Regions from separate parts of the Homo sapiens genome. Here region 1 is linked to region 2. The links come from fine-mapping of genetic effects on gene expression. A gene starts in region 2. The other region holds a variant in brackets. All regions are shown on one strand. Distances are between the middles of the regions. Region 1 holds the start of CCND3 (cyclin D3). Region 2 holds the start of USP49 (ubiquitin specific peptidase 49).

Region 1 (12,536 bases), 40 kb before region 2:
TAAGTCAGGAGGACCCCAGTAGGGCAGGGATCCTCATGGCCTCCTCCCATTTGGAGCATTATTGGAGGTCTTTTTCGGCCTCTTCGTCAAGTGGAATCTAGCTTCCGGTAAAACTACAAAGTAACCAAAAGTTTGGGAGGTGGAAGAAATGCAACCGGTAGATCTCACAGAGTCTGTGCAAGAAACTGATTCAATGAGAATCTAGTTTCTCCGTCCACAGTTTCTCCAAACAGAAACTAAGGCCGACTTTAGGGGCTTGTCCAAACCTAGGCAAGCAACTTAACAAGGTGAGGCCATGACTCCATGGCCTTTCCGTTCTGTTATATGCTGACTTAGACTAAAGCTCTCATACTTTAAAGTGCACAGAAATCTAGTTAAAATGCAGATTCTGATTCAGGTTAGGGGTGGGCCTGAGAGTCTGCATTTCTAACCAGCTCCCAGGCGATGACCACGCACGGGACAGGTCTGGGATCACAGTTTAACTAGCAATGGTGTAGAACACAGAATCTGCAGCAAGAAGGCCAGCTTCCCAATCCTAGCTCTGCCACGGACCAACTGAATGACAGTTGCCTCGGTTTCCGAGTTTTCGTGAAGATGTAGTGAGTCATTACATCGTGAGGCTTTCGAGCAGCGTTCACTAAGAACTAGCTCTGACATTATTTATCGCATTCCTTAGAGCAAGCAGCCGGTGAAGTAGGGTTTGACGAATGAATAAGTGAATGAATGACCTTTGGAGAAAAATTGTTTCCTGGGTGACTAGAGTCCGAGAAGCAAAATGGGAGGGCCCGTGGGTGGGTAGGAGGCCCACCTCCTAGAAAGTTCTCTGCACCCGGTGGTCCAGAGGGCCTGGAGTGCCCGGAAGCCGGCCGGCTTGCGCTCAGCGGCCCAATGGGGCCGCGGGAGGGAGGGGAGAGCGCTCAGCCAACCCTTTCCGTCCGGGGCGCCGCAGCCCCGCCCCTCGGAGCGTTGCGACGTCCGAGCATTCCACGGTTGCTACATCGTCGCGAGGGGCGGGGCGCCTGTCAGGGAAGCGGCGCGCGCGCGCGGGCGGCGGGCGGGCTGGGGATCCGCCGCGCAGTGCCAGCGCCAGCGCCAGACCCGCGCCCCGCGCTCTCCGGCCCGTCGCCTGCCTTGGGACTCGCGAGCCCGCACTCCCGCCCTGCCTGTTCGCTGCCCGAGTATGGAGCTGCTGTGTTGCGAAGGCACCCGGCACGCGCCCCGGGCCGGGCCGGACCCGCGGCTGCTGGGGGACCAGCGTGTCCTGCAGAGCCTGCTCCGCCTGGAGGAGCGCTACGTACCCCGCGCCTCCTACTTCCAGTGCGTGCAGCGGGAGATCAAGCCGCACATGCGGAAGATGCTGGCTTACTGGATGCTGGAGGTACCGCCCGGACGCGTCCCCCTCCCCCACCGCTCCCGGGTCTGGACACACCGGGGCCGCCCTGTCGGGACATCCCGGTCCCCACAGCAATCTGCAGGATGCTCCGAGGCTAAGACTCCCGGGGCCTGGCCTTTCACTAGGGCACCCACGCCAGCTGCCTCCCTTGCTTTCCCGAGCCCTAATCGGCTCCTCCCGACAGTGACTGCCAGTCACTTGGCACCCTAACTGTGCCTCTCTTCGGGCCGAGCAAACGGGACCAAGGACACTCTCTCCCCTTCGGCTTCTCACAGCGTCTCCCGCTTCCCTCCGCCTCCCGGCCTTCTCCGGAGAGCGCGCCTGGAAAACCCTGGGCTCGGCCGCCCCCGCCCGGGAGCCGGTTCCTGTGTCTTTCGCGGGGTTCTGGCGGGGAAGGCGATGGGGGTGGCGCGCGCCCTGTTCCGGCCGACAGGGAAATGAAAAGTGCAGGAGGCAGCGGCAGGAGCCTCCTCCCTTCCCCTCGGGTGTGTGCAGTGGTGGCGGTGATGGGGGTGAGGTCCCAGCTCTCTGGCTACCATGGGTGACCCTTGCGTCCCACTTCCCCTCGCTGTGGGGGAGGGGAGTCTCCGTTTGGAATCCTCCGTGAGCAAGGGCTCCTTGGCTTTACCACTCCCCCGTCAAGGGGAGAGGGGAGGAGGCCGCGCAGAGGAAGTGGGGGGCGTCACCTTGGGGAGGGCGCATCCTCCTCCTTTATTGGTCCTTGTCTCTCTAAGTAGCTTACCCTCTCTGCCGTTTTTGCTCCCTATCCCACCTCACTTCAGCGCTCCCACCCCCCCGCTGCTGTGTTCCCCACGCTCCAGACCCAGCAGTGACTGTGCGCCCTCCCCCAGGTATGTGAGGAGCAGCGCTGTGAGGAGGAAGTCTTCCCCCTGGCCATGAACTACCTGGATCGCTACCTGTCTTGCGTCCCCACCCGAAAGGCGCAGTTGCAGCTCCTGGGTGCGGTCTGCATGCTGCTGGCCTCCAAGCTGCGCGAGACCACGCCCCTGACCATCGAAAAACTGTGCATCTACACCGACCACGCTGTCTCTCCCCGCCAGTTGCGGGTGCGTGTGTAACTCCCCCCACCCCCGACACGTATTGTCTCCCCACTTTCCAGGAAAAGGAAAGCTTGAGATATCAGAGGCTTTCTGCCCCCTGGAGAGGAAGCAAGGGGATCAGGACCTTTGGGAAAGGAATTGGGGTGGAACAAACGATGGGGCATTGTGGTGTGATGGTTAGTATCACTCCCGCCCAGGCTTGAGCTGCAGGCAGGCATTAAACCCCCTCCTCCTGACCTCCAGGGGATGCCACTCCTTCCTGGTCTTTCCCCCAGATAGCAACAAGTCAAATTGCATGTCTACACTCACTAGTACTTTGCCTCTGGGTTTACGCAGCCACCATGAGTTATTTATTGGCAGCAGAAGGGCATGCCTGCACACCCCCACTGGAGTAGGGGAGTGGAATGTGCTTCATGTGGGGGAGGGGGTTTTGCCTTGGTTGAGTCTTTATCCTCATGTGGACTTTGTGATAGAAAAGCCTCCCAGAGCCAATTAAAGCCAGGCCCTGATTGCTTTAAGGAAGGGCTGATGTATTTCATCCCACCTTCTTTGCTTCCTCTTATATCCCGGAAGAAACAGCTTCTTCCTAATCCTTCCTCGTCCTCATTCTGAGGAACTGGAGCAGCTGCTTTGGGCCTGGTGGAAACAGCTCCCTCTTCCCCCCTTAGCCCAAGGCCCAAGCTGAGGGACAGACAGGGAGGTGAGCTGCATCTGCTTCCGATGTGATAATGGTGCCCCCTCCCCTGGCCCGCCCTCTCTGACCAAGGTCTTTCATAACCCTGTGGGGAGCTGCTGTCACTCCTGTGGTTTGGGAAGTGGCTCCCTGGGCCTCTTGCTGGAAACTTGGGCTGGGCTCAGGCCGGGCAGGAAAGTCACCGGTTCTGTCCCGCCTCAGAAGGAGCCTGGGGAGGAGGCGGGGGAGCTGCTGGATCTGGAAGAGGTTATTTAGGACATGCAGATTGTCTCCTAGGGAGGCTGGGGGAGAGGGTGGGTGAGCTGGCACCTTCCTCCACCTTGCTCTGTGGCGGGCCAAGTCTTCTGCTGACCCTGAGAGGAGTCTCTGGGCCCCATCTCCCAGGGAGGAGGGCAGCAAGCAGGCTGCTGTGATTGGCTGGCAGGGAAGCCAGGGTACTGGGGCCCCCGACTGCTGTGAGTCGAGGAACAGGATTCCTCTTCCTGCCAAGTAGCTCAGAGATGGGAGTAGGAGGCCAGAGTTGGGAATCCAGGAGGCGCCACAGCTCTTTGTGATGAATCTGGTAGTTTTTGGCAAGTCTGAAGGTGGAGCTAGTTTCCAGGGCCAGAGAGCAAGATGTTTTTGGAGGGGTTGGGGCTGGAAGGTAGAAGGGGAACTTCCTTTTTGTGAAAAGATGGAGGTGGTTTGTGTGCCCACGTATGAGGGTTTTTCAGTACAGGCAAAAAGTACTCTTCCCTCTGCCTGAGCTGGGGGTGGAGTGCCCAAAAGACTTCCTAGAAGGTCAAGGTTGGAAGGGACCTCTGAGAACTCCAGTTGGTCCAAATCCGTGTGCAGCAGAGGAGGCTGAGGCCCAAGGAAGGAGGGCAAGGTCCTGCCTCAGCATCGCACTGAGCAGATGAGTGTAGAACCTGGGTCTTCTAGCTAGACCAGGTTGCCTTAAAAGTCAGGAATGTGATGGCCGCTGCCACCTACTGAAGCTAAGCACTCCCAGGGGTGTGTTCTCCACCAGTTAACACTGGGATTCTCTGGTTGCCTGGATATGGGGAAAGGTGGCCACTTTCCCTCAAACACAACCCCTTGCCTCCCCATAGGGAGAGTCCCACTCCCAGTTGCCTTCCAGATGCTTCCTTAGAAGCTGAGTCCCTTCTGTTTACTGCTGAGTTAGGAGTTGGCTCCTGGGACATGCACTAGGGGTAGCGTTGTAATTTATCTGTCTCACTTCTGGCTCCAGGCCAGGCTATTTTCTCTGGGGCTCTGTGAGGGTAGGGGTTGATTTGAGAGGCTGACACCTAAGCTGGGGCCAAGAGAGAGACAGCTGTGGCTGGGGCCTGGAAGAGGTTGGGTGGGGTTGCCATTTCTGCCTCAATAAGGAGTCAAACCCACAAGTTCCTTCCTGAGATAAAACAATGAAGAAATCCTCATGTGTGCAACTCAGAAATGGGGCCAGGTCTGGGAACCCATGACGAGTGGACTGGGGTGGAGCTCCCAGCCTTCTCCCGAGACCTAGTACTGGCAGGTAGGCTTGGGTAGGTGAGGATAGGGCTTGATCCCTCTGGAATCATTTGGAGCCATCCTGTCTGGCTTGGCCTCTACCTATCCTCCTGAAAGTCAAGTGGCATGGGGCACTACGGGTTCCAGCTAAAGGGGGTGGGGTGGGGTGCTATACCTCAGGACCCATCCCTGATATCCTACCAAGGGGATGTGGCTTGGGTTGGGCAATCTCCCCTTTGAGGAACCTGAGAAAAGGCTCTGTGGCTGTCATTGGAGGAGTCATACTCCCTTCTGTTGATTCAAGAAGTGTGGACTTGGCTGGGATGCAGAGTTGCAGGGGAAGCTAGTGGTGATCTCCCCTTTCACAAATCCTTGGGGTTGAGAGAGTCTTTCTGCTTCATCCCAGAAGAGAGCCCAGTTCATGGTGATGCTGTGGTATCTGCTGCTTCCGTCTTTCAGCCCTGGCTGGAGAAATCCTCAGAGCCCTGAATGAAGTCAGGAGAAGGCCTGGATTATTGGCCCCTTAAACATAACCAGACAGGATTAAAAGGGATAATCCATGTAAAGCATGTTGTCCTGGCACCTAGTAAATGATCAGTAAGTGCTCAAAGCACATGCCTCCTCCTCTTCCCTGCCTTGAACTCCATGGTGCCCGGCCTTAAAATCAGAAACAGAACTGGGGTCTTGGGCTTTAAAAGTTTGATGGGCTTCCCTGCCTGAGACTTTGAGACTTCTGCTTTGCTCCCTCCTCTTCACTTCTCCAGCCACTGACCCCACCCTTTCCCCGCTTTTTCAGGACTGGGAGGTGCTGGTCCTAGGGAAGCTCAAGTGGGACCTGGCTGCTGTGATTGCACATGATTTCCTGGCCTTCATTCTGCACCGGCTCTCTCTGCCCCGTGACCGACAGGCCTTGGTCAAAAAGCATGCCCAGACCTTTTTGGCCCTCTGTGCTACAGGTAAGAGCCCTATGCACATTTTTGCCAAATTGGAAAAATCAGAAGACTTATAAGGGTGAGAGGTAACTGAAGATTCTGGTTTATACTGTCAAAATTCCTTTGTGAAAATTATACCCCCTCTGAGCCCCCAGTCTCAATGCAGAAAAGCAGGTTATAATCAGCTATATGGGATCTCAGACCCCTCCAGTTTGTAGTGGGGACACTGAGGGTATAGAGAGAAGTGACTTGCCCAAGGTCTCACAGTGAACAGGTTGGGAACAGAACCCCAGTCTCTTGGCCCTAGTTGTGTTCCCATACTAGGGAGTGTCTTGTCTATTCCCGGGACCTATGGAAACTGGCAGTTGGTTCTGATCTCTAGGAAAGATACTCTTTCCTGTCTTCCTCCCTTGCTGATATCTTGCCCCACCCACTGCTGGAGTTTTCCAGCATGTCCTCTGCTCTACTCATGCTGCCTGGCACTTTCCAAGGAGTCGGAAGTCCATGCTGGCCGTTATCCTTCAGGTTTCCTTCTCTCATGGTTCCCTTTCCTCCTCTCCAAGATTATACCTTTGCCATGTACCCGCCATCCATGATCGCCACGGGCAGCATTGGGGCTGCAGTGCAAGGCCTGGGTGCCTGCTCCATGTCCGGGGATGAGCTCACAGAGCTGCTGGCAGGGATCACTGGCACTGAAGTGGTGAGTGCTGGGTAGCTGGGCAGCAGCCTCTCCATTCATAAAGTAGTGCTATGCCCTGAGCCTCCAGTAGAGGGAAACCTCCAACCCCAACCTGGTCCCAAGTCCTGGTTTCACAACCTTGGGGCTTTGTGGCTTTTTATCTCCTGCCTTGGTCTGGGGAAGAGCAAGTATCTTGGGTGGGGTGAAGGGCACTGGCCCTAGGGGTTCTTTTCTTGCCAAGTGGTGTGCTGGAGTGGGGGTGGGGGGTTTGGTGTCAGATGCAGGGCTGCTCTCACACTCCCTTGCCACATCCTCTTGCTAGTTTCTGAGAACTAAAGAGCGATTCCTGGGGCCGGGCTGTGGCCTAACCTCCCCAGACTTCCCCATGTGTTGGGAGCTGTCCTTCCCCTGCACCTGCTGCCAGATGCTATGGGGGGAGTGTTTGCTCCTCACTCTTCTCCCATGTTCCCAGGACTGCCTGCGGGCCTGTCAGGAGCAGATCGAAGCTGCACTCAGGGA[G/T]AGCCTCAGGGAAGCCTCTCAGACCAGCTCCAGCCCAGCGCCCAAAGCCCCCCGGGGCTCCAGCAGCCAAGGGCCCAGCCAGACCAGCACTCCTACAGATGTCACAGCCATACACCTGTAGCCCTGGAGAGGCCCTCTGGAGTGGCCACTAAGCAGAGGAGGGGCCGCTGCCACCCACCTCCCTGCCTCCAGGAACCACACCACATCTAAGCCTGAAGGGGCGTCTGTTCCCCCTTCACAAAGCCCAAGGGATCTGGTCCTACCCATCCCCGCAGTGTGCACTAAGGGGCCCGGCCAGCCATGTCTGCATTTCGGTGGCTAGTCAAGCTCCTCCTCCCTGCATCTGACCAGCAGCGCCTTTCCCAACTCTAGCTGGGGGTGGGCCAGGCTGATGGGACAGAATTGGATACATACACCAGCATTCCTTTTGAACGCCCCCCCCCACCCCTGGGGGCTCTCATGTTTTCAACTGCCAAAATGCTCTAGTGCCTTCTAAAGGTGTTGTCCCTTCTAGGGTTATTGCATTTGGATTGGGGTCCCTCTAAAATTTAATGCATGATAGACACATATGAGGGGGAATAGTCTAGATGGCTCCTCTCAGTACTTTGGAGGCCCCTATGTAGTCCGTGCTGACAGCTGCTCCTAGAGGGAGGGGCCTAGGCCTCAGCCAGAGAAGCTATAAATTCCTCTTTGCTTTGCTTTCTGCTCAGCTTCTCCTGTGTGATTGACAGCTTTGCTGCTGAAGGCTCATTTTAATTTATTAATTGCTTTGAGCACAACTTTAAGAGGACATAATGGGGTCCTGGCCATCCCACAAGTGGTGGTAACCCTGGTGGTTGCTGTTTTCCTCCCTTCTGCTACTGGCAAAAGGATCTTTGTGGCCAAGGAGCTGCTATAGCCTGGGGTGGGGTCATGCCCTCCTCTCCCATTGTCCCTCTGCCCCATCCTCCAGCAGGGAAAATGCAGCAGGGATGCCCTGGAGGTGGCTGAGCCCCTGTCTAGAGAGGGAGGCAAGCCCTGTTGACACAGGTCTTTCCTAAGGCTGCAAGGTTTAGGCTGGTGGCCCAGGACCATCATCCTACTGTAATAAAGATGATTGTGAAATAAAACTGGCTTTGGCTTCTTGGATTGGTGTGTGGGTAAGTCTATTTCTGCACTGTATGAGGTAAGGAGGTGGAAGTCAATGGTCTAAAGCAGGGATCATTGAGCCTTTTCTGTAAAGGGCTGGATATTTAGGCTTTGTGGGGTACATGGTCTCTGACCCAAATATAGTCAGTTCTGCTTTATAATGTGACCTATGCGTTCCTAAAAATCACTATGCCATGCAAAATTGCACAATAAAGACCACAGGTCTCATGGGAAAAATGGGGCTTGAAGCACAACACTCAAATGAGTGACACATTTAAAAAAAAAGGATAGCTTGGTTTTTACATATGTCAAATGGTTGAGAAATTATATCACAATAAATATGGCCTTTTATCTTGAAGACATGCACTTTGCTTTTGGAAGTGGACGTCGGAAGGGTTGCTCAACACAGGTGGGGAGATGAGTGAGGTAGCTGGTACATGTTTAGGTGTGAGTTTTGTGTACTACTTAGGCTTGGTTCAGCTAGATACAGTTTCCCATATTCACCTACTATTTCTCGAGGATGAAATCACACACAAGCAAACATGAAGTCTGCGTTATGATCAAACTGTTCCCAAATATATTAAATGGGTTGGAACAAATGCGCAATTTCGAAAGCAAATAACAAGGGTTATAGCAGGATTATACTTAAACTCTGCTGTTGTAGCACAAAACCAGCCACAGAAAACATGTAAATGGGTGAGCATGGCTGTTCCAACAAAACTATTTATGGATGCTGAAACTGGAATTTCATGTAATTCCTACCTATCACAAAATACTGTTTTAATTTTTTCCCCATTTAAAAATGGAAAAATCATTCTTAGCTCATGGGCCACACAAAAATGGGCACTTGGGCTGGGTGCAGTGGCTCATGCCTGTAATCCCAGCACTTTGGGAGGCCGAGGCGGGTGGATCACCTGAGGTCAGGAGTTTGAGACCAGCCTGGCCAACCTGGTGAAACCCCTTCTCCACCCCGTCTCTACTAAAAATACAAAAATTAGCCAGGCGTGGTGGCACGCACCTGTAGTCCCAGCTACTCAGGAGGCTGAGGCAGGAGAATCTCTTGAACCATGGAGGCGGAGGTTGCAGCGAGCCGAGATCATGCCACTGTACTCCAGCCTGGGCGACAGAGCGAGACTCCGTCTCAAAAAACAAATCAACAAAAAAAGGGGCACCTGGCCCTAGTTTACTAGTCACTAGTCTAAAGCTTTCATTGGCTGAAAAGCCAGAAAGGGAGCCTGTTTGATGCTAGCTCTGATCTAACCATTCTTGGGCCCAGCCTTATTCTCTGGCCTTTTTTTTTTTTTTTTGAGACAGTCTTGCTCCGTGGCCCAGGCTGGAGTGTAGTGGCCCCAATCCTGGATCACCGCAACCTCCACCTCCCAGGTTGAAGCGATTCTCCTGCCTCAGCCTCCCAAGTAGCTGGGATTACAAGCACACGCCACCACACCCAGCTAATTTTTGTATTTTTAGTAGAGAAGGGGTTTCACCATGTTGGCCAGGCTGGTCTCGAACTCCTGAACTCAGGTAATCCACCTACCTCAGCCTCCCAAAGTGCTGGGATTACAGGCGTGAGCCACCAAGCCCAGCCTCTCTGGCCTTTCTTGACTCTTATCTCTGCTTTCCCCAAGGAGTTTTCTCTTGTAGTCCTTTCATCCACTGCTGAGACACGACCATCTTTGGACAACCTGCTCCTGGCTGCTGTAGCCTGTGATGGGGGAAGGCAGAGGATGTGTCCCCTGGGGGCTAACAAGGTGAGTGCAGCCTGGAGAAACAAGCTTGGAGATCAAGGGAGGTGGGTCCTATATAAACAGGACAAGAATGTCCTCCGTCCTCCAAATACTAACAGGAGTAATGCCTACCTCCATTGACTACACCAAACACAGAGGTTCAATAAATATCTGTCTTTGCCTTTATCCACAGTGACCTGACACAATAGCCATAGAAAAAGTACTCACACCAAGCCCCAGCTGGGGACTGGGAATGCTAGCATATGGTATCTCAAGTTGGCTCTCAGAACTAAACAGGGATAAGGGCCTAGAATGGAAGAGGGAACCAGCCAGACCCTCAGTCCTTCCTGTCCTGGACTGGGAGCCACAGATGTCCCTGTGATCTGTCACTGCCCTGATCTGGGTCTTCAGCCATTAAAGCTCAGTGTCATCTTCAGTCACCAACGGGGGTCTTGGTGTCCTTCCAAACCCCTTTGGCCAGGACAGCTGACTGTTTTCCTCACTCCACGGTGATGGGAACATCTTCCACATCGCGGGGGACTGCACTCTGAAGCTCACGCCTGATTTCGGGCGATAGCTGTGGATGGGGCTGCAGCCGGAGCAGTTCTAAGAGGGCCTCTTTCTGGTCTGTGGCCAAGTCGGCCTTGTAGCGCTGGACCAAAGTCAGGAGGCACTGGTGCCACAGCACAGGCAGTTCACGCTTCTCTGTCCGGAACCCCAGGAAGTGGAAGACTAGGGCATCCAGCACCCGGTAAGGCAGTGCATACTTCTTATCCAGCAGCAGTCGCAGGAAGATGCTGTTGGCACCGCTGTATTCCATCTCAGCAATTTTCAGCATGGCCGCACTAGTGGGAAAGGGAGGTGGGGTAGAGTAAGCAGGGAAAACATTGGAAGAAGGATCCTACTTCTCCCTCTATGCTTTCCCCTTTTTTTCTTCCCCTCTGCTGGCCCTTACACTATGGTATTCCCCAGGGACCTTCTCACCTACACAATCATATTATACTCCCTTGACCTCAGTCACCATCTCTACAGGGATCCACCCAAATCTCTATCTCTAGCATAGACTGCTTGTTTCAGTAACCAACTAGAGTATGGTCCAAACATCTCAACGTCTCCACCCTAACTACTTTCTTCCTGTGTTTCCTACTCATTTGTTTATCTATTTACTGAGAACTTACTTTATGCCAGGCACTCGGGCCCTGTTGTTGCACAACTTACATTGAGGGGGATAATGATACACCTACTCATTGGCTTAAACAAGCACAAACCCAAGGCTTTCCTTAGCTCCTTCTCCACTCTGCCCATTCCCAAGTCCTGGCAATTCCACTATCTGGATATCCACTGACCAGCCCCCTTCCACCCCCAGCAATACTACCTGGAGTGCAACACAGGGATGGAGCACTTGGTGATGATGCTACCCACAATGATGGCTTCCCGGAGGGTACAAGTGCCAGACTCGCACAGTGGAATCAGGATCCCTAGGGAGAGTCAAAGGGCAGCCACTGTGAGCCCAGGATGAGAAAAAGGAGTTACAGCAGGAAGCATTCCCACCCAGCCCAGGGACAGCTAGCAATTTCCCACACCAGGCCTGCTGTGTTCCCCATAGAAGCTCCAGCCCTTCCCTTTCTTCCGTGCCTCTGGGATCCCACCTTTGAACCAGGCTCCAGGTTTGAAAAGGGCCTTCTTGAGAGCCATGTAGAGATGGAAGTTGAGTCGTTTGTATTCAGCAACGTCATCTCGTACTCGAGGGAGCAGGACAAGGTTGTAGAAGCGCTGGGCCATGCGTTCCTTCAGGTTAGAGGCAAAAATCCTAGTGGGAGTTAAGCGGGGGAAGTTTCCAACTCACACGACAGTCTGGACCCGGCCCATTAAATATCACCATGGATAGTGCATACAAGAGGTTTTAAAGTAAAATATGGGACCTTTCTTTCAGTGGGGGATGTGTGGGAGCTGTGTGCATGCAACACCCATCAGCTTAGAGAGAGAATAGGAGGGGCAATGAGATATACCCAAATGAGGAGCACCGTTTGTCTGTGGGAGAGCCAGAGCTCGTGCAAACTGATGGCTACTCAGCATCAGTTGAGTAGCCCTGAGCATGCCTGGGCAGTCACAGACTTCTGAGGGTCCTGCTACAGGGTTGTATCCCAGTGGCTATAAAAGCCTCTCCCCTAGAAATTCATCACAGAGGGTTGTATCCCAGTAGCTATAAAAGCCTCTCCCCTAGAAATTCATCACGGAGGGTTCCTAACTGGCTAACTGGGTCTTGGCCCCAAAAAATGACACAGGAAAAGCTAGAAAAATGATGCTATAAAGTAGCACAGAGAGGGCCCTGGGGCAAAGCTCAAATGCCCTGGGGCCAGAGGCAAGGAAAGCCTGTCCGTCCCAAACTCAGCCTGCACCTATAAACCCAAGGCCCCCGAACCCCCAGCTACTCTACCTGGTGGCCTGGTACATGGCAGCTGCAGTCCAGGCCTCCGGCTCTGTGACGTAGAGGATTTGCTCCCAGTTGGAGAGTGCAGGGATGATCTTAAATGCCTTGGGCAGTTTTCCACTGCGGTACTTAGATAATACCTAGGGATGAGGGAGGTAAAACAATCATCGTCATCCACATATGGCAAGCTTGCTGTGGGCTAGGAACTTGTCTGGGTGCTTTTAATATATTAACTCATTGCATCCCCACAATAACCTATAAGGAGGTGCCATTATTATGCTCATTTTACAGATGACCAGTGAGAGTTCCAGTAACCGACCCAAGGATGCCAAGTCATTTACAGGCAGAGCAGGAATCTGAACCCACACACTCTGCCTCTTAGGTCTGTTTTCTACTCCCATGACTTCTTTAGTATGTGATGCAGGCAAAAGGCAAAAAAGCCTGTGGCAGGAGCCCACAGCCCCCAAAGGGGTCTTCCACC
Region 2 (12,536 bases):
ACAGAAATATGCTAACCTTGACTGTCAGCTGTCAGGGCAGCTTTAGAGCTCATTTAGTTCTCTCAGTGTAAAATGGAGAGGCTGTATCTCCCAGAGAAGTCATGCAGAGAGATGAGGGTGGAGTCAGGACCAAATTTCAGGCCCAGACTCCTGGCTACCAGCATGTGCCAAAGTACAGCAGCTGGACCTCCCTGAGGTGCCAAATGATTTTAGGTGGAATGTGGAAACATTTTAATACTAGTACTTCTGTCTTATTCTAATTTATATTAAGAGAAAAATATAACTAGTACTTTATTCCTTAGGATGGGGGTGTTTTTAAGAGTTTGTTTGTTTATTTATTTATTTATCAGTAGAGATGGAGGTCTCATCCTGTTGCCCAGCCTGGAAGAGTCTTTTCAAATGATCTATTAAGTTACAGTACAGGGGATACATGCAAACCTCAAAACCTGTGTAAGGGGAAGGCAAATACTGGATCTTGGGAACCACTGTAATCTACTTTGTGTCTAGTCTATTTCCTATATCCATTGATGGTTCCTGCCCTGGCTGTGCTTTCCTGTTGTCTCTCTTTGATGCTGGATTCTCTGTACCCTGCTCCCACACTGCCTCCTGCTGGCTTTCCTCAGATATCAAGGACCAAGTAGTCACATTTCCCCTACCATGCATTGGTGTCGCTTCTTCACTGAAGAAAACACCTAGGGACTGACCACTCCTCCCCTCCACCAGATCTACCCAACCCAGTGTGTTCTGAGGCTTCAGGGTAAGGCAGTTAGTGAAATTTTTCTCTCCAAATCCTGGAAGGTAAGGGTTGTGGTTAGAAGTTCCCCACCTAAGCATGTGCTCCAGGTGTCAAAAATTGACAGGCAGGACTGATATATGGCCTTGTGGTCTCCAACCCCATACCTTTAACTCCCAACATTGCCTTTCTCTTGCCACACCCTCCCTCTCCATTTCTGTTACTGCCTGGGTGTCTTAGGCCACAGACCCCAGTTACTATTGCATGGGGAATGGCTGAACCCAATTGCATTACAAGTTTGGGCCTCCCCTGAGAATTTGGTGTCTTTGGCTTGTGAGTACTCACTTCTTGGGGGTGGGATCTCTCCAAGATGAGTCACTATGATTGTGTAGAGCATTCCCAAATCAGTCTTTTTGGTTAGAACAACTCTTTAAATCACCTAGCTTGACCATCATTCAATACTTACATCTCGGCCAGGCGTGGTCGCTCACACCTGTAATACCAGCACTTTGGGAAGCTGAGGTGGACAGATCACCTGAGGTCAGGAGTTCAAAACCAGCTTGACTAACATGGTGAAACCCCATCTCTACTAAAAATACAAAATTAGCTGGGCGTGGTGGCGCATTCCTGTAATCCCAGCTACTTGGGAGGCTGTGGCAGAAGAATGGATCACTTGAACCTGGGAGGTGGAGGTTGCAGTGAGACGAGATCTTGCCACCGTACTCCAGCCTGGGTGACAGAGTGAGACTCTGTCTCAAAAAAAAAAAGAAAAAGAATCTGTGATCCAAAAAAGAGTCTCTAAAGGGAGAGCAAATCCTGAAATGGAAACAGTATGAGGACAAAGTTAAGCAGGTTTGAGACTGGTCCAGCCAGCTTTTGTGAGCAGGATCTTTCCCTGCCTTCTGGACCTTACATCTGGGTGTCAAGCCAGAGGATTTTCCTTCTTCATTTTATAGCCAATCCTTTGGGCCTTTCAGACAGTTTCTGGGAAGATGGACTGAGTTTTTGCTATCTTCCTATGTTTCCCCTTTTTCTTTTGAAAATAGGCAGGAGTAAATATATATGAAGCAATCTTGATAGCTACCTCTGTGGCTTCAGAGTTACTCTTCTGTTATGACACTCCATGGGGTCTGGCAAGTATTCTGTTGTAATGGAATTTGGCATAATGCATATACTTCTTCATTTTTCAGAAAAACGTGATTGATGAGGCAGAGAAATAGTTCCTTTCCTCTGTGATGAAATTATCAAGTTAAAAAATTATTGAAATGATTAGGGCAAAGTTTCCTAATTCTCTTGCATTCTCTGTTTAATTTCCCAACATAGACCCCTGCCCCACCATCAGATAGCACAGATTAATTTTTAAGATTAATATGAATTCAACTGAATCTTCTTCGGAGACTTTTAAAAAGAGAGTTTAGGGACCACATTTATGTAGCCTAGATTGTCCTGAAGTCAGAATTCAAGAGTAGAAGTCTTTTGTCATGTAGGAAAGGCAAGGCTGTGAATGTGAAGGTGACGGGTATTCTGGGGTGGCCTGCTCAAGGGAAGAGAATGCGTCTTTAAGAGACAGATGGCTGAGTGCTAGCCATAGCACTGGCCCTAACTTGCCACGTAACTTCAATCAAGCTGTTGTCTCTGAGTCTCATCTGTACAGTGGGAATAATGATGCCTGCTTTCCATATTTCATAGAGTTGTTGAGAGGCTCAAAGGAAAATACATATGAAGAATGTTTTGTAGGCAAGAAGATGCTATCTCTGCTCTCATGTCTTTTAATTTTCTATAATTTTTTATTTTTTAAGACAGAGTCACGCTGTGTTTCCCAGGCTGGTCTCAAACTCCTGGGCTAAAGTGATCCTCGGCCTCCCAGTGTTGGGATCATAGGTGTGAGCCACCATGCCTGGCCTAAGTATTTATTAATTTGCTTAAAGGTAACAGTAAGCCCATCACATGTTAACATAAATAATTTTTTTTTTTTTTGAGACAGAGTCTCACTCTATGGCCTAGGCTGGAGTACAGTGGTACAATCTTGGCTCACTGCAACCTCCGGCTCCCAGGTTCAAGCAATTCTTGTGCCTCAGCCTCCCGAGTAGCTGGGATTACAGGTGCCCGCCACCATATGACCTCAGGTGTTCTACCCACCATGGCCTCCCAAAGTGCAGGGATTACAGGCGTGAGCTACTGCTCCTGGCCAAAATATATATATATATATATATTTATTTAATTTTTTTTTTTTTGAGATGGGGTCTTGGTCTGTTGCCCAGGCTGGAATGCAGTGGCATGATCATAGCTCACTACAGCCTCCATCTCCCAGGCTCAAGCAGTCCTCCCACCTCATCCTCCTGAGTAGCTGGAACTACCTGTGCCCACTGCCATATCTGGCTAATTTATTTTTAGTAGAGATGAGGTGTTGCTATGTTGTCCAGGCTTGGTCTCAAACTTCCTAAGCTCAAGCGATCTTCCCACCTTGGCTTCCCAAAGTGCTGGGATAACAGGCATGAGCCACTGTGCCTGGCTGATAAAATATTTTTAAGGAAAAGTAATTATTTTTCCAAACAAAATTTCTTGAGAAGAGTAGCATTGTTTTTAATTTTCATAAATCTTTTGAATGTCTGGCATAATAGAAGACTGTGAAATACTCATATCTGCTTTTGCATTCAGTCTGTTTCAATGTTATTTTGGTTGAAGAATATGAAGAAAATTCAGCCTCCCACAGATGTGTATTTGGAAAAAGGGAGAAATATATTCATAACTTTTTCAGATAATTGTGGATATTCTTTGATGCTATCAAAACTCTGCTAAAGGTTAGTTGCAATGTGGAACCTCAAAGTATATTAGTGAACTTTTTATATTCCATTAATATTTATTGGTTTATTTTGCACTTTTTTTTTTTCTTTTTAGGGATGGGGGTCTCGCTATATTGCCCAGGCTAGTCTCGAACTCCTGGGCTCAAGTGATCCACCTGCCTCAGCCTTTCAAAGTGCCAGGATTACAGGCGTGAGCCACTGCACCTGGCCTTATTTTGCACTTTGAATGGATCTTTTACTAATGTGTGATTTTGTAGTGTCATGCATTGGTCATTTGGAAAACACTGCACATCTCCTAAATGTTGACACATTATACAGTATCAAAAAATCATATTTATTTATTTTTATTTTTATTTTATTTTATTTTATTTTTTGAGATGGAGTCTCGTTCTGTCGCCCAGGCTGGAGTGCAGTGGCACCATCTCGGCTCACTGCAAGCTCCGCCTCCCAGGTTCAAGCAATTCTCCTGCCTCAGCCTCCCGGGTAGCTGGGACTAAGGCACATGCCGCCATACCCAGCTAATTTTTTTTGTATTTTGAGTAGAGATGGGGTTTCACTGTGTTGCGCAGGCTGGTCTTGAACTCCTGAGCTCAGGCAATCCGCTCACCTCGGCCTCCCAAAGTGCCAGGATTACAGGCATGAGCCACCGTGCCCGGACTTATTTTAGTTTTGTGAGACAGAGTCTTGCTCTGTTGCCCAGGCTGGAGGGCAGTGCCATGATCTCGGCTCACTGCAACCTCTGCCTCCCTGGTTCAAGCAATTCTTGTGTCTCAGCCTCCTGAGTAGCTGGTATTACAGGCATGCGCCACCATGCCCAGCTAATTTTTTTATTTTTAGTAGAGATGGGGTTTCGCCATGTTGGCCAGACTGGTCTCGAACTCCTGGCCTGAAATGATTTGCCCACCTTGACCTCCCAAAGTGTTGGGATTACAGGCATGAGCCACCGTGCCTGGCCCACTACCAGTCTTATTAGAAAAAGTCATGGGAAGCTATCAAACTTACATTGGGAGATACAAGTCAGTTGTTAGAAATTCTGTTTGACTTAAATGCTTGAGTTTTATCAGGCCGGGTGCGGTGGCTCACGCCTGTAATCCTAGCACTTTGGGAAGCTGAGGCGGGCAGACTGCCTGAGCTCAGGAGTTCAAGACCAGCCTGGGCAACATGGCGAAACCCTGTCTCTACTAAAATACAAAAAATTAGCTGGGCGTTAGTGGCGTGTGCCTGTGGTGCCAGCTACTCAGGAGGCTGAGGCAGGAGAATTGCTTGAACCTGGGAGGCAGAGGTTGCAGTGAGCTGAGATCACGCCACTCCACTCCAGCCTGGGTAACAGAGTGAGACTCCGTCTCCAAAAATAAAAATAAAGGCTTGAGTTTTATCATAACCGACAATGCTATCAGGCTCTACTTTATTTTTAAGAACATGTCTGCCAAATATCCAGTGAACAACTAGTCTGTTAGCTGTTCTTTCAAATAAAAACGGTGTTCCATGAAGAAAGCTATTAATTCAGCTCCAAACTCAAATTGCAAGAGTGCTTTTCCTCAAGACAAATGTTGTACTTAAAAGTGCTTGATGCATACATACATGCATTTAATCACATAAACGTGTACTTAAATAAAACAATTTTTATTGTCTTCATCAAAGACCTCTTAAATGAAACAGGTGGTTTTTTTTTTTTTTTTTTTTGAGACAGTGTCGCACTCTGTTGCCTAGGCTGGAGTGCAGTGGTGCGATCTCGGCTCACTGAAACCTCTGCCTCCCAGGTTCAAGTGATTCTCCTGCCTCAGCTTCCCGAGTAGCTGGGATTACAGGTGCGTGCCACCACGCCCAGCTAATTTCTGTATTTTTAGTAGAGAGAGGGGTTTCACCATGTTGGCCAGGCTGGTCTCGAATTCCTGACCTCAAGTGATCCACCTGCCTTGGCCTCCCAAAGTGTTGGGATTACAGGTGTGAGCCACTGCACCCATCCGGCCTGAAACAGGTGTTTTTTTACTGTAGCAGTGAAGAATACCTTGACCTCTAGCACAACTTGGTGCAGTTGCCTTGATTTGTGCTAAGGCAGCAGTTTTACCCATTGCTACTTTTGTATCATTGTGCAAATATCATCACAGTGACAATGCAGATATGTCTCAGTATTATTAGGAAAATCGTTTTGATCTCAGGCACCCCACTATCCCCCCAGCCCAAAGGGTCTCAGAGATCCCTAGGCCTTTCCAGGCGACACTTTTTTTTTTTTTTTTTTTTTTTTGAGATGGAGTCTCACTCCGTTGCCAGGCTGGAGTGCTGTGGCACGATCTCAGCTCACTGCAACCTCCAACTCCCTGGTTCAAGCAATTCTCCTGCCTCAGCCTCCTGAGTAGCTGGGATTACAGGCACACGCCACCACGTCCGGATAATTTTTGTATTTTTAGTAGAGACGGAGTTTCACCATGTTGGCCAGGCTGGTCTTGATCTCCTGACCTCATGATCCACCTGCCTTGGCCTCCCAAAGTGCTGGGATTACAGGCGTGAGCCACCGTGCCCGGCCTCCAGGCCACATTTTTGAGAACACTGATCTAATACATGCTCACATCACTGAGAAACTTTTCCTCCTGTATTGCTATTCTGGGAGCATCCCTTCCATTGGAAGTTTTAAGTGGCTCCCAAATTCTTCACTCAGCAAAAGCACCTTGTTATGGAACTAACATTGAATAAGTAACAATCTTTCTTCTCCAAGAATTTTCTTGGGGATTGTTGAGTAAGGGAATAAGACATATAATTAGAGTTATAATGTTAAGAATTCCTTAAAAAGAATTATGTTAACTGTGATGGACGACAAAGGGAGAGCTAAATTCTGAATCTAACTCTGAGGCCTTGAACCTCATGATAAATCCCGACCAAACCAAATTGAAACACTCCACTTCCTCTCCTTCTATCAAACCTCTTTTAAAAGTGCAAGTTGTTAATAAATTGCCTACACAGCGCTTGGTCCAGGCATTGTAGTTTCCCCCTTCCTATTGTGTGTGGTGTTCTTTTTTTTTTTTTTGTGCTTACCTAGTTCTCCTGTTTACAGGTGTGTAACTTGAGCCACTACTATAGCTAATGTCTGTTTCTTTTACTTGTCCTTATATTTAAATGTAAGTCTTTATCTGCCTTAGCTATGTGTTGGGTGTTGAAATTGTTGATCTTATTTTGGGAGACTCCCATCCCCTCCCCCCACTACCACCCCGCAAGTAGTTTCAAGACAGTGCACCTAGGAGACTGCTTAACCTAAGCCTTTTGTAGCTTAGGTGCTGTTCTGTTTCCCAATGGACCACTACCAAGTCAGTCTGGTTTATTTCCCAAGCCTTACAATCTGCTGAACTTCTTCAGTTCCGGCAGCGATCCTCTAACTTGTGGGGGATTTCCATAAAACAGCTGAATCTCTCTTGGGTCATCTGTGGCAAAAGCCAGACACGTGCTCACCCGCCTGGGAGCCAATAGTAACTTTTGCAAACGCTGCCTCCGGAAACCCCACGGTTTGAGGGCTGCTGCTTTAGGAACAACACAGAAATAACGTCTTTTAACAGAATAAAACAAAACATACGGACGGGATAGTGAGAAAGCCTTTGTCCTTCGCAGTGGGGAGAGGTGTTAAAGGTGAACCGAAAAGAGTATGGGAAACTCATGTAAAATACCTTTACAGTTCCCCGGGAAGAAGGGGGCGGAGATGGGCTCGGGAGCGTCTCTGGCCCTTTAAGGAGGAGGGACAGACATAAGAGTCTGTACCTTTAAGAGTCTCTTTGTCTGGAAACCTTCTTATTTACCCTCCTGTGCTTCAACCAAACTTCGACCAGCTATTCACAACGTCCCCCTACGCCGCCGCCCCTTACGCCAGGCTCAAAGCGGCCGCGCGTTTGTGGCTGACCCTAAACTTTGCGCCTGCGGCGCGAACCCTCGGAACGGGTGCCGGTGCCGGGGTCGCGGCCCAGCGCTGCGCCGTTGGCGCAATGCAGGGCCTGAGGGGCGGGGCTCCAGCGGGCGGGCCAATAGACGGGCAGGGGGCGGGGCCGTGTTCGGTTGTCTCGCGCCCTGGTGACAGCTCGCGCGTGCTGATGATGGCGGTAAATAGAGGGGGCCGGGGGAGGGGACGGAGGAGGTGGGGAGGCAGCAAAGTGGGTAGCTCCAGGGGGTAGGGGGAACGGGGGCCGGGGAGGCCGCGACGGCCAGGGAGCCCATTCTAAGACTCGGAGGCGGGGATAGGAGTCTCCGGCTCACTAGCCCTCCCCTTTAAAGAAGCAAAATCCTCACACACCGGGTGAGGGGCGACAAAGGCAGCGCGCGCCTCGCGGGCGGGAGGAGCGGCGGCAGGGGGCGGGACCGCGGCGCCGGCGGGCTGGGGGCGCCCGGGGCGGGGGCGGCGGGAGGCGAGAGCCGGGAGTCGGGGCGCGCGGGCGCCTTATTTTGGCGGGGTGGGCGACGGCTGGGTTGGGGCAAAAGCGTTGAAGGGAGAGGGAAAGGAAGGCTTGGAGGCGATGAGGGGAACCGGGTTGAGAATGAGATGAGGAGGATTAAGGGGAGAAAGGGTTAGAAGCCAGGGAGAGGAGGAGTGAGAAAAAGCCAGCCAAGGAGATAGGAAGGAGGCAAAAGCCAGGGTGGGCGTTAAGGAAGCCGGGCAGGGAATGAGGTTAGGGCTGGGGAAAGGGATCCTGGGGTTAGGTGTAAGAGCAGGGGTTTGAAGGGGAAATCTTCGTAGCGGGTGGTGTTGGGGTGAGGGGTACCGGGGTAAGTGTTGGAAGTGGAAGACAAGGAGGGGCAGAGCTGGGGTAATAGTTGGGAGTAGGAAAGAGAGAGTGATTAAGAGCCAGACGTGACGAGGGTGTGAACTAGTGCGGAGCGAGATGAGCTGAAGGACTGGGACCAACGGTGTGGTGGGAACTGCTGGCGAGGTTCTGAGAAAGGAATGGGTTAGTGGGTGGGCGATGGATGTAAATTCTGTAAAGTGAGGGAGGGCAAATGAGACCTGGACTGGAACCAGGTGGAGTCAGGAATAAGAGTGTGGTGGAAGGGCGAAAGGAAACAGATAAGAGATGGGTGTCTGTAGGACGATTCTGGGACCAGAAGAGCTGAAAGGAGACTAGAGTTAGGGTGTAAGAAGTGATGGCCATCTGGGACAAGGATAACTGGGTAATTACGTTAATTGAAGAGGTTCAGCAAGATCCAAGGTGAAAACAGTGAGGTAAAGAGACAGGGCTAAAAGCAAATGGTGAGAGGAGCAGGAAGAGATGGGCCCCAGAATTTAAAGGATGAGATGGGGAGTAAGGGAAGAGAGGGGGCTAAGAGAAGCTGGGGGAGTCCTGATGGATGTAGAACTGGGGTAGACTGCAGGGGGGTGGGAATCGAATGTGCGTGTTATGGGGAGTTGCTCCAGAAGGTCTGCAAGGGTCAGGGCAGAAATGCTGTAGTGAAAGATCAAGTGTAAGAGAGCCTTTGGTGCAGAAGACGAGGAACCATGGTGAGTGAAAGGGGACCTAGAGACAGGGGTAAAGACTAAAAAGTAAGGGCAGAGGTGGGGGGTGCAGGAAAGGAATTCTTTGTTGAGGAGAGAACTGTGTGTTGAAACTGTGAATCCTTTTGTCCCTAAAAGTAGGAAATTCCAGAAACCTCTTTCTCTCAAGAAATCTTGAATCTGCTTCCACCCTTCATTGCTTTTGATTTGACTTTCCTGTCCACTTTGAAGAAATGAGACTCATTTTGATTTGATTTTTTTCTTGTATGGATGATAAAGTATAAACTCTGGGTGTTGAAAACCTCTGCATTTCACTAGTGTTGTGATAATTCGGGGAAAGGGTGTGCTTATTTAGGGTGTACTCGTGTGATGTGATAGTTTTAGTGTTGTAGGAGTGTTGCACCTGACAAGTGCTGGGCTGTGTTTTATGGACAGCATTTTCATTTTCAATGGAGAACGCACTGTTGTTGGGATAGAGAAAGATGAGAATCTGTTTCTTTTGATTAATCAACCAGATTTCTGCTTATTGTTTTCAGTTGCTGGAGAATGTTAAGAAATCATTTCAGAGAAAGGCAGATAACCAACCAAGGAAGTTTACTGGGGGAGAGATTAAATCAGAGCTGAGGGCTTTGAGTTCCTGAGCTGCCTTTAGCTTTGTGCGGGACGTTTCATGCTGTAGTTGGTAACTCACCCATTTAACAAAATGGCATAAAGAAAGGGAGAATTGTAGAGTAGTGGAGGATTTTAGAGTAGCAGACTTATTTTTTAGGGCAAATAAATTTATGAGTAATTTTGATGGAAAAACATCTCTGTAAGATAATACTGCAGCAAGCTTGGTCTTTGGACAGCTCCACTGCCTTTCGTGTTTTATGGTTATGAATAAAGAAGGCCAGATTAATACTAATTTTCTAGAAGCTTTTGATTTTTAAGACACCTTTAGAAATGAAAAGGAAGATAAGAAATTTGGGGCAAAATTTGGTTATTCTTACTTAGAATTTTGTTTTAATGATTTTTTTCAGAAGCTTTTACATTTAGCTAAGAATATGAATGAATATTTGTTTTGCATTTGATGGTGCCAAAGGATAGCATATGATTTACTTAGGGAAAAATTCAAACAATTGTTGAGAATCTTCTTTGGGGTTATTTCATTGTGTACACTCAGATGCACAAAGATACTTTTTTTTTCAAAGTTGGGTAAATTTTGGATTGACACTTTTGCTGGTGTTTGTATAAATAACAAAGATTAGGTTTATGACTTTTGTAGTAGTTAACAAAGATTAGATTTTGATTTGTGGATTTGAGCAACAATGGTTAATGTATAATTTAGAAAACTCTTTCTGCATTCAGCTACTGTGTTAGTGGCATAGTATTTAGTTTATGGTTTGTTTCCTGGATTGTATTAAGCAAGTGTTCAAGGTTACTAGATGTATTTAGCAATTTAACAGAGGATCTTGGTAAAAATTACTATTTTTGCCACTACATTTTAAAAGGATTAGTTTGATAATGTTGACTTTCAAGATGAAGAATAACTTTGATATGAGGCACTTGTTTCAGTGAGATGTGTGTGCATATTCTTTTTATAGATGTGTTTGGGCTGGCGTTAGTAGTAGGACGTACTCTGTATGGTATTGCCATGTTTATAATGTAATTGTAATTGTTTAATGCTCAATATCTTTATATAAGTGATTATAGACTTATTTGATATTGGTAAAGAAGGAAATATAAACTGTAAGATCAGCCAAGGGAAAGAGTGAGTCCTGCCTTTTGTTTCTGTATGCAACGGCCTTAGTGTGCTAAACCACTGAGTCTCATTGTCAATGGTTATTTCTCAGTCGCTATTTCTAAAACTGAAAATGGATTTTTAAAAATTGAGATAATACTATTTATCAATAAGGACTCCAATGATAAATTTAAGCTTTATTTTCATTTGTTCATCAAGTACAGTTCTACCCAATTTAACTTTATTTTGGTTATAATCTTATTTGCTAAGCAAAAGCTTTTAAGTTTATATTTTTAGATTTATTAGGCTGTACATAATTAAATGTTTTCCTGGTTAACCGTAGATTCTTTGGATGGGAAGAGACCTTGAAAGGACCTCTAGTTTATCCTGCAACTCCAGTCAATATCCCACTTAAATCATTCCAGGTAGATAAAAATTTATCCTATTTTTTAAAACAAATCTTCAGCAGTAATGTGGTAACCTCTGTAGATAATCTTTGCAAGCATTTAATAATTTCTCTATCAGGAGAGTCTGCCTTCTCTCCAACCAGCACATGTTTAATGCTATATATGTGTTTGTTTCCTCTTGCCCCATTCTCAATTTTTGAGTAAAAAATACCTGTGTACTTTTGTATTTATAAGACCTTAGTTCTTCATAAACTTAATAATAGTAGCCAACACACATATAATGCTTTTGTGCCAGATACTTCTGTAAGCACTGCAAATTGTAACTTGTTTACTCCTCAATGGCAATCCTGTGAGGTAGGTACTATTACTATTCTCATTTTACAGGTGATGAAATAGAGGGTCCTTGAGATTAAATGATTTGCCCAAGGTTATACTCAGACATTCCTACAACTATTTATTTGGTAATTATCTTATATTACAAATAATACTATGTTTTGTAACCCAGTGATACATTTAATCTTTATTTTAGTTCAAAAGCTAGAATTCTACCAAGTGGTGGGATGGGATTCCAGCCTTTGCATTTTGCCAGCAGAGTCTGTGCTCTGGTTTTGCCTCTGGCTTGCCTGTTGTGAAGTTCTCCCTCACCAAGTTCTTCTTCAGATTCAACACTTAACAAGTCTTGTTTGCCAATCTTTAAAAATTATCCCTGTAGTCCTGTTACTAACCTTTTATCCAGTTCCTTTCTAGATGAGGAACCTGGGGTAAACACCGTAACGATTATGTATAATGTAAAGATTACATCAAGGTTGTTGCATGCTTCTATTTTTTCATTCCAAAATTGTATTTACAAAACAAACCCAAACCAGTAAAAAATGCCTTATTGCATTGCAGATTCCCCATCCACCTTTTTAGCTAGAAAACTGCCCTGGACTTGTTATATACTATGACACATTTATAGTTGAAAGATTATTGCTGTTTGAAGAAAAATGGATTTTTTCTGATTTCAGATTTCAGTGCAAATATCCATAAGCAAAATCTGTTTATACCCTCACTAATTTTTTAGTATTTTCTCTTTATGTGTGCCTAAGTGATATACCAATTTCCCCATATATTATTATTATGATTATTATGATTATTATTGAGACAGAATCTTGCTCTTTTGCCCAGGCGAATGCAGTGGCGCCACGTCAGCTCACTGCAGCCTGGACCTCTCTGGGACTACAGATGTGTGCCATCACACCTGGTTAATTTTTGTATTTTTTGTAGAGACAAGGTTTCACCATGTTGCCCAGGCTTGTCTCGAACTCCTGGGCTCAAAAAATCTGCCCACCTTAACCTCCCGAAGTGCTGGTATTACAGATGTGAGCCACCGCGCCTGGCCTCCTAATACTTTAATTGGTTAAGTAAA

What was found.
Region 1: its variant is fine-mapped to the expression of USP49 in whole blood (TOPMed, PIP above 0.99).

The regions. Positions count from the first base shown.
Region 1 is chr6:41,930,294-41,942,829 of GRCh38, reverse strand. It overlaps BYSL (bystin like), which reads right to left. Exons shown (of 7, transcript NM_004053.4): 4 at 12,062-12,195; 5 at 11,274-11,434; 6 at 11,000-11,102; 7 at 9,784-10,469. The coding sequence ends at 10,124. CCND3 (cyclin D3) reads left to right here and starts at 1,022. Exons shown (of 5, transcript NM_001760.5): 1 at 1,022-1,378; 2 at 2,245-2,460; 3 at 5,436-5,595; 4 at 6,135-6,271; 5 at 6,723-7,878. The coding sequence starts at 1,181. The coding sequence ends at 6,890. RefSeq lists a silencer at 874-1,323 and enhancers at 840-1,791, 1,834-1,963, 3,045-3,339, 2,920-3,735, 3,736-4,551. The variant G/T (reference allele first, on the strand shown) is at 6,770.
Region 2 is chr6:41,890,404-41,902,939 of GRCh38, reverse strand. USP49 (ubiquitin specific peptidase 49) reads left to right here and starts at 7,565. Exons shown (of 8, transcript NM_001286554.2): 1 at 7,565-7,616; 2 at 11,065-11,146. RefSeq lists enhancers at 7,168-7,357, 8,292-8,806 and silencers at 7,407-7,699, 7,488-7,727.